Linked DNA regions of Homo sapiens: region 2 is linked to region 1. Evidence: fine-mapped expression QTL. A gene starts in region 1. The other region holds a variant in brackets. All regions are shown on one strand. Distances are between the middles of the regions. Region 1 holds the start of DHX30 (DExH-box helicase 30). Region 2 overlaps SMARCC1 (SWI/SNF related BAF chromatin remodeling complex subunit C1).

The links. PIP is the estimated chance that this variant, and not a neighbour inherited with it, causes the effect.
Region 2: its variant is the best candidate, but not a certain one, in a credible set for the expression of DHX30 in whole blood (TOPMed, PIP 0.63).

The regions. Positions count from the first base shown.
Region 1 is chr3:47,801,223-47,805,614 of GRCh38, reverse strand. DHX30 (DExH-box helicase 30) reads right to left here and starts at 2,477. Exons shown (of 22, transcript NM_138615.3): 1 at 2,403-2,477; 2 at 195-289. RefSeq lists silencers at 683-879, 2,057-2,906 and an enhancer at 1,807-2,332.
Region 2 is chr3:47,604,279-47,608,670 of GRCh38, reverse strand. The region is part of intron 26 of SMARCC1 (SWI/SNF related BAF chromatin remodeling complex subunit C1); the gene reads left to right. All of the region lies in intron 2 of LOC124906234 (a long non-coding RNA gene), which reads right to left. Among named protein-coding and RNA genes, the nearest start is that of CSPG5, 28 kb to the right of the region's middle. The variant C/T (reference allele first, on the strand shown) is at 1,718.

The sequences.
Region 1 (4,392 bases):
GCAAGCCAAGATCGCGCCACTGCACTCCAGCCTGGGGGACAAAGCGAGACTCTGTCTCAAAAATAAAACAAAATAAAATAAATGATATCCTTCTTCCAAAATGGTCAGAAATAGGTTTAACACATACCTCTTGTTTTACAGTACAGCTGAGCATCAGATCCACCACTGCTCTGTGCACGGCTAAATCAACTTACCTTATAAAAGCAATGACAGTCTCAGATTTTGTAGGCTTTTGAACTGGAGCTGAATTCTCTCCTTGCTATTCCTCATCACGAGGCTGGGCCTCCTCCTGAGAAGTACAACGCTGAGTCAATACAGTGGAGGCCCCATAGGGAAAGAAAGTTGCTCCAACCATCATTTACTAGCTCTAACAAGGACAAATTTTGTTAGTGGCATGAAGGGCACATACTGGACAAAATGGCCTTACAAATCAGGACTTACCATGACCCATTCTAGGCCCATTAAATTGTAAGCTGTCCTACACCAGCACCTGTAGAAGTGCTGAAGTCTTCTGACATCATCTAAGAAGATGTCAAGGTAAAGAAAGCCTTGTAAGCCTGAAAAGCATTTTCTGGAAGCCCAGAGCAAAACCTACTTCCACTTTGAGTTCTAATCCCATAATAATTATGATAATCTAACATAAAGAAGCTATAATACTCTTCAAGATTGGGAAAATAACAATAACTCAAAGTTGAATACCATTTTTACAGTTCACAACATACTTCCATAGACTTTACCCCATTTAATCCAGGCAACTATCCAGTGAGGTAGGAATTATCTTTCCAGAGAAGAAAACTGAAGCACAGGTTACACAACCTGCCCAAGATCCCATAGCTGCCTCAGGGCAGATGGAAATCAGCATTGAAGCATGCTGACTCCAAAACCCTCCATGCTTATACTAGGCTAATTTTCTTATTTCCAGGATATTATGCTGTTGCCTAAATGTACTACGGTTCATTCCTTGAGACATATTATACTGTTATCTTCAAAGGCTGAAAGGGGCAAGAAAGGTCCAACAGCTAATAAAACTTGTGTGTGGTTTTTGTTTTGTTTTGTTTTGAGAAGGAGTTTCGCTCTTGTTGCCCAGGCTGGGGTGAAATGGCGCGATCTTGGCTCACTGCAACCTCGGCCTCCTGGGTTCAAGCAATTCTCTTGCCTCAGCCTCCCAAGTAGCTAGGGTTACAGGCGCACGCCACCATGCCCGGCTAATTTTTGTATTTTTAGTAGAAACGAGGTCTAGCCATGTTGGCCAGGCTGGTCTCAAACTTCTGACCTCAGGTGATCCACCCGCCTCGGCCTCCCAAAGTGCTGGGATTACAGGCGTGAGACACCGCTCCCGGCCCTAATAAAACTTTGTATCACAGCTACATAAATTAAAACACTTGAAGAGCAACTATCTTTTAGGGATAAAGAGCCAACACCGGTAGAAAACGCAGCAAAGGATGTAGTTTCTGCACATCGCCTTAAATCTCTAAGATTTAAGTGTAAATTACAAGATGTAGTTAAAACCCACAATGACAGTGGGGTTACCACCTTGCAAGAAACTTCAAGGGAAATCACCAGACAACGTCTCATTTCACTCTGGCCCATAAGCTGCAACTAAAACCAGGTTGAAAGCCTGTAAGTGGCCTTCTGCAGTCTACCTGCTAGTGTATGGCAAACCCTCATGGAGTGGGGTTGTAAAGTGAAACAGCCTCTGCCTTGAAAAATCATAATTCAAGTGACCAATGTTGCTACACAACGACTAGATATGCCATATCCCTGGCTTAGGGTTTCTGAGGACCCCTGGGACTCCAGTTCACTGCAAACAAAGGACCCAACATGCATTTGGTCTTCCCCTGCTAAATGGGACAAGTTACCACCAGCAAACAAAGAATACCTCACCCCTTGGCCTCCCCCAGTGACAAGGTCGGTGCAAAAGGGGGCAAACTAGGGGGGCCAGAAGGCACCGGGCCTCCCTCTGGACGAACGGTCCGGGCAGCACCGGGAAGGAGGAGAAGTAGACAAAGGTCTCGGGGCACTCAGGAGGCTTCCTCCAGGCCCTGCCTGGGGAAACGGCGCATCCCGAGGCGAAGGCGTCGTTGCGCCAATGAAGCGGCCTCTCCCACGGCCTCCGCGGAGCCCCTGGCTGCGAGGCCCGCCCCGGCGGACCGGTCTGGCCCCCGCCCCCGCCCGGGCTCCATGGCAACGGCAGGCCGAGGCCTGGCTGCCCACGGATCGGCCGGGCCGGCTTCCCGGGCAGGCCTAGGATGCCCGGCCTGCTCCTCGGGCCCGCCGGCGTCTCCGCCCCACTCTCCGCCAGGCTGGCGGTCGGACCGGGCCCCCTCCTCACGACGACCACCCCCGGCCGCGGCAGGCTCCTCAAGAGGGCACGAAAGGGGAGAATAAAAAGCCCAATTCACCTGTTGTTACAGATGTGAAACAAGCCTCTGTGCACCGCGCATGAGCCGCGGCTCCCCCAACCACGGCCGGACTACAACTCCCAGCAGCGGCGGCGCGGCCCCTTCCGAGTCCCGTGGCGGAAGTCCCGCCACCGGCCCGGCGTTCCCCACCCGGCGTCACGGAGCCCGCCTGCGGCGCACGGCTCCGCTCCCCCGCGGGCCTGGAGCCCGGCCCCACCTGGGACTCGTCGTAGCCGCTCGGGGCACCCAGCGCCCGGGATGCCCCAGCACCCGGCCCAATGGGGCGCGGCGGCGGTGCAGGCGGGACTTCCGGCGGAGTCGCGAAGGGGACGGGTTGGCGCCGGCTGCTCTGGGGTCGCAGAGCGAGCGGGTTTGGGTGGCGGGGTCGGGCGTCAAGTTGCTGCCTTTCTCGGCGACTTAGCTGCCTGCAGTGTGAAAGCGGGAAGGGTCTTCTCGCCCTCTGCGAGCCACCCGCGCCTCCTGATGCGAATAAACAGCCCGGGTCATGGCTGAGCGGGGAACGGTTTCCAGCTCGGGCTCCGGGATTCCACCCGCCTTCCCCGCCACAGCTCGTAGCCACGCCTCTTCTCTTCCCCATCTCCCCTCTAATCTGTTTTTTTAGGGAGGTGAGCATTTTTGTCTTGTCTCCCCAGTTTGCAGGGAAGATGAAATCAACGTGTTGGTTCGTTGATTTCGTAAACTGTACAACGTTAGGCAAAGGACAAGGTGGCACTTGCTGGTCGCGGGGAGAGTGCCAGTCATAGTTGCTGGAAATCTGGAGGTCCGCCCGGCCACATCACCTCTTAGGAATGAGAAAGGGGATTGTCCCAATTACACGCTGTAGTCCTCTAGATAAGGTTCAAGTATAGGTTCAGTGGAATTCAGCTTCAAAAGGAAACAACGCAGTGGCGTAGCTCTGAAGCTGGGTCAGGATTTTACAGAGTATGGTTTTAAGATGTGGCCTTTAGGCCGGGCGTGGTGGCTCACGCCTGTAATCCCAGCACTTTGGGAGGCCAAGGCGGGTGGATCACCTGCGGTCAGGAGTTCAAAACCAGCCTGGCCAACATGGTGAAACCCCGTCTCAACTAAAAATGCAAAAAAATTAGCTGGGCGTGGTGGCGGGCGCATATAATCCTAGCTACTTCGGGAGGCTGAGGCAGGAGAATCACTTGAACCCGGGAGGCGGATGTTGCAGTAAGCCGAGATCGTGTCATTGAACTCCAGCCTGGGCGACAAGAATGAAACTTAAAAAAAAAAAAAAAAAAAGATGTGACCTTTGAGGCTGTATGAAGAATTAGTGCCATATCCCGTCACTTTTGTGTGCAAACAGTTCAACATGTATCTCTTTTCTTTCTCTCTACATTGGCTAGAAGACCGGGGTGTGGGGGTGGAACATCATTTATTCATTCAAATAATTAGTGCATCTGAACAGGGCATGGTGCTGTGTTGTGTGGAGAATAGAGAGATCCCTGCACGGACATCTGAGTGCTCTGTGTATCAGTTGCTAAGCTGGTGTGGAGGCTACAAAGGCCCTGCCTCAAGGGACTTAGAGCCTAGTAGAGAAGATGACAACATTGTGTGAAGGAAATGGAAAGTGGTAAATGCTGGAAAGGAGGTATTAGGTACTCCAAGAGTTCAGAGAAAGGAGTGGTTACTCCTGAATGGCAAAATGAAAGGAACGTGAACAAAGACATACGAGTGGAACAAGGGACAAATCCTAGGAATATTCAGTAGTTCAGTGTGACCACAGGGTTGGATGTGTGTGCAAGCTTTACAGGAAATAGAACTGAAAAACTGTTGGGGAGTGCCATACTAAGGAATTTTTACTTTTTTTGGTAAGACATTTAAAAAATTATTAGGAGAGTAAAATACTGCACTTTTTTGTTGTTGTTGAGACAGAGTCTCTACTCAGTCACCCAGGCTGGAGTGCAGTGGGGTGGTTGCGGCTCACTGCAACCTCTACCTCCCACGTTCAAGCGATTCTCCTGCC
Region 2 (4,392 bases), 200 kb after region 1:
TTTCGCCTTGTAGCCCAGGCTGATCTTGAACTTCTGGGCTCAAGCAATCCTTCCGCCTCGACCTTCCAAAGTGCTGGGATTACAGGCATGAGCTCTACCACACCCAGACAAGATTCACTTATGAGGTCAGGCATTCTTGTAGTGTCAGTTTTTCTTTTTGTGGTAATTAAGATTGATCAGTAGTTCTGGTGTTGTCAGTCGGATCATCCATTATAAAAATCCCCATTCGACTAAATTGTTTTAGAATTGAGCGTTCAGAATTGCTTCTTAAATTAGCTATTTTAGGCCGGGCGCAATGGTTCATGCCTGTAATTCCAGCACTTTGGGAGGCCGAGGCGGGCGGATCACCTGAGTCAGGAGTTCGAGACCAGCTTGGCCAAAATGGCAAAACCCTGTGTCTACTGAAAATACAAAAATTAGCCAGGTGTAATGGTGCACATCTGCAGTCCCATCTACTCAGGAGGCTGAGGCATGGGTATTGCTTGAACCTAGGAGGCGGAGGTTGCAGTGAGCCAAGATTGTGCCATTGCACTCCAGCCTGGGTGACAGAGCGAGACTGTGTCTCAGTTAGTTACCCTGAAAATCAGTTCTTATAGGAAAGCCTGGATAAATGCTTCATATTTTCCCTCTATTGGTTATCTGTATAATGAGTTGCTGCCCCTCAGTAACCAAAGGTGACCAGCAAAGGGTTTTTTTGTGTATATTTTTAATATTGTAAAATTATAAATTTTTTAATATTTTGTGTGTTTCAGTCTATCATAGATACTATTTGTGTTTCTTGTTGCTTCTTAAAAGAGGTTGGGTCTCACTGAGTTGCCCAGACTGGACCCAAATTCCTGGGCTCAAGCAATCCCCCTGCCTCAGCTTCTGAAGTAGCTGGATTATAGGCACGTTCCACTGTGCCTGGCTTTTTTTGATGCTAAAATTGTCCCATTTGTAGCTTGTGAGAACTGTTTCGAGTTGGCTATTGTTTACTAAATTTTAACTACTTTGGAAGTTGAACTCATAGTTCCTTCAAGCTTAACTGCCAGCATCATTAAAACCTAAGATGTACTTTTAATTCCAGTTCACCCCCCAAACCCCACATTCCTTCTCTTCTTAGAGGGCAATATATATGGGTGTGTGCTGTGTTTTATGTTAGTCTAGTGAAAGTCATCTTGTAAGATTTTTATAGTTTGCTTATCCACAGTAATATACCAAGTGCTTAGAGCCAAAGTTTGTGCTTTTGGGGATGGGATGCAAATTCTCTGTCCAAGTCACGGTATTATCAACACACTTATTCACAACCCAAAATATATTTTAGGCTGTAGTTTTAGTAGTTTTTATTGACTTTACCGAAAAACAGGGCTAAGTTTACTTTGGGAAGCTTTCGTTTACACACACTCACAGGATTAATTTGCAATCATAAGAATTACTACCATCGTCAGACTTGCCACTCTAAATGACATTTGTGGAGATAGCCTTAGAAGTTTACCCTGCTCACAACAAGGTGCATTCTTTCTCAGTCTTATTTCTGTCTACTTGAGTGGATCTTAAATTCTTTGTATGGAATCAGATTTTCTCCAGAGTTAAGCTTTCAAAAGATACAAATGCTTAAGAGTTCACATCTCAAAGTAATTTTTCAAGAACAATAGTTATTTAAAAATTAAATTCCTAGGCCAGGCTTGGTGGCTCACACCATTAATCCCAGCACTTTGCGAGGCCAAGACTTGAGGAT[C/T]GCTTGAACCCAGGAGTTTGAGACCAGCCTGGGCAATATAGAGAGAAGCTGTCTCTACCAAAAAAAAAAAAAAAAAGTAGCCAGGTGTGGTGGTACTGCATACCTGTAGTCCTAGCTACTCAGGAGGCTGAGGCTGGAGGATCACTTGAGCCCAGGAGTTTGAGATTGCAAGTGAGCTGTGATTGTGACACTGCACCGTTACACTCCAGCCTGGGCAACAGAGTGAGACCCTGTCTCTGAAAAATAAATAAATAAATAAAAATTCAGTTTCTGAAATACTGGGATAAACTTTTAAGAGGAAGTTTACTGTAGCTACTTGGTATTTGGCTCTTGATGGTGCTAAAGCATCATATTCACATTAACTGCTCACAGAACATCTAAGGAGTGCTAGCATCTGCATTTACTTTGTAAAAGATGGGCAGAGAGGTGCGTCTACTTTCTTCCCTAAATGAGATTTTGATGATAATGGGTGTTTGTATGCCATGCCCCTCACCCACATTGTTTCACTTATTTCTCATTCTCACCTTACAGTTGAAGAACTGATGCATGGCAAGGCCGCATAGCTTTGCTGCATGGTAGAGCCAGGATTCACACTGAGCTCCATCTGATTCCAAAGTGAGGCCAGTGCCACAGTGCTGCCTCCCGTGACGGAAGACTAAGGGGATTTATAGCAGATTCAGATACAGCTATTCTAGTGAAGCAGTTCCGCAAACTAGAGTTCATAAAAATAGTCTTTGGAAGAGAAATAGGTCATTTTAATCTTTTTACTTTCTCACAAAAATAGGCTTTTCTAAAGTGAATTTGTAAAGGAAAGAATTATTGAGTGCAGTGCATGATGAGAGGTTTTTTTTTTATTTTTAGTCTATGACAAGATAGTCTCATGATTTTTTATTGAAATAAAATGTACATTTTGGATAATGCACAATCATAAATATTCAGCTGAGTTTTTTTTTTTTTTACTTCCTTTATACTTGCAGAATTGATGAGTTTTAACAGAGAATATTCATGTGTAACCAACACACAGAGGCCCTCATCATACTGAGTCACCTTCCCTTCCAAGGATAACAACTGTCCTGACTTCTAGCGCCGTAGACTAGTTGGGCTGGTTGAATGTTATCTAAATGTAACCACAATTACATTTATTATGTCTGGCTGCTTTCCTTGTTTTGTTTTGTTTGAGACAGACAGGGCCTTACTCTGTCACCCAGGCTAGAGTGCAGTGACATTATCAGGGCTCACTGCAGCCTCAACCTGCCAGGCTCAAGCCATCCTCCCACCTCAGCCTCTTGAGTAGCTGGGACCACAAGTGCACACCACGACACCCCACTGCCTTTTAAATTTTTTTGTAGAGACATGGGCTCACTATATTGCCCAGGCTGGTCTTGAACTCCTGGGCTTAAGTAGTCCTCCCGCCTCCGCCTCCCAAAGTGTTAGGATTACAAGCATGAGCCACCATGCCCGGCCACATCTGGCTTCTTCCACTCAACACTGTATATCTGAGATGTGTCCACATTATTGTTTGTGGTTGTACATTTGTTCCTTCTGTTTGCTATACAGTGTTCTGTGGCTGTACTATTTATTAGTCTGTTCTGTTGGACATTTGACTGATTTCTGGATTTTAGTTATTATGAATAGTTTGTGCTGTTGTGAAATACATGAGCACGTCTTTTGATAAGACATATATGTACATTTCTGTTGTATATATCCCTAAGGTGTAGAATTGAGTATTTATGAACCTAAGAGTGGATCATAGGATATGCATATGTTCAGATTAATAGATGCTGCCAAACTTTTTGCAAAGTGGTGGTGCCTGTTTACACTCTAGCAGTATGTGAGAGTTCCAGCAATTCAAGATAATAATTTTTCCAAATTACCCCTTTTGTTGGGTTGCTTTGGAGTTTGAATATAAAATCAAGTCTGTTAAAGAGTAAAATTAAAAGCAACAGCACATTAGGCTGGGCGCGGTGGCTTACGCCTGTAATCCCAACACTTTGGGAAGCCAAGGCAGGTGGACCACTTGAGGCCAGGAATTCAAGACCAGTGCCTGGCCAACATGGCAAAAGCCCATCTCTACTAAAAATAGGAAAATTAGCCGGGTATGGTGGCACACACCTGTAATTCCAGCTACTCAGGAGGCCGAGGCACGGGAATCGCTTGAACCCAGGAGGCAGAAGTTGCAGTGAGCCGAGGTCATGCCACTGCACTCCAGCCTGGGCAACAGAGTGAGAGACCCTATCTCAAAAAAAAAAAAAAAGAACAACAGTAAATTAAACCCACTATTTTAAAGTTACCAGTTCAGAAAAAGCTGGTTCTAGCACGTAGGTCTGATAGACCATATTCTAAAGGTCAGCTAAAAAGGACTTTCAAACCAGGGCAAGTAAGATTGTCCGTAGCATTTTGGGGCCAGAATGGCTTTAGTCTCTGAGTTGCCACAGGGTAAGGTAAGAACTATGAGCAGGTCCTTCCAACTCATGATTCCTAAGTTCCAGAAAAGTTAACAGGCCACAGCTTACATTGGGAGCTGAAGATTATCTGGGTCAGTTGGCTGTCTTTGGTATTTGGCTCGACTTTATGATATATGATGGGAATAATCAGCTTCTGAATGCCAGTAAGGTTGGGGAAGTGCTGAGAGGAGGGACTAGGCAGATTTATTACCAAGTGGTTAATTTTTCATC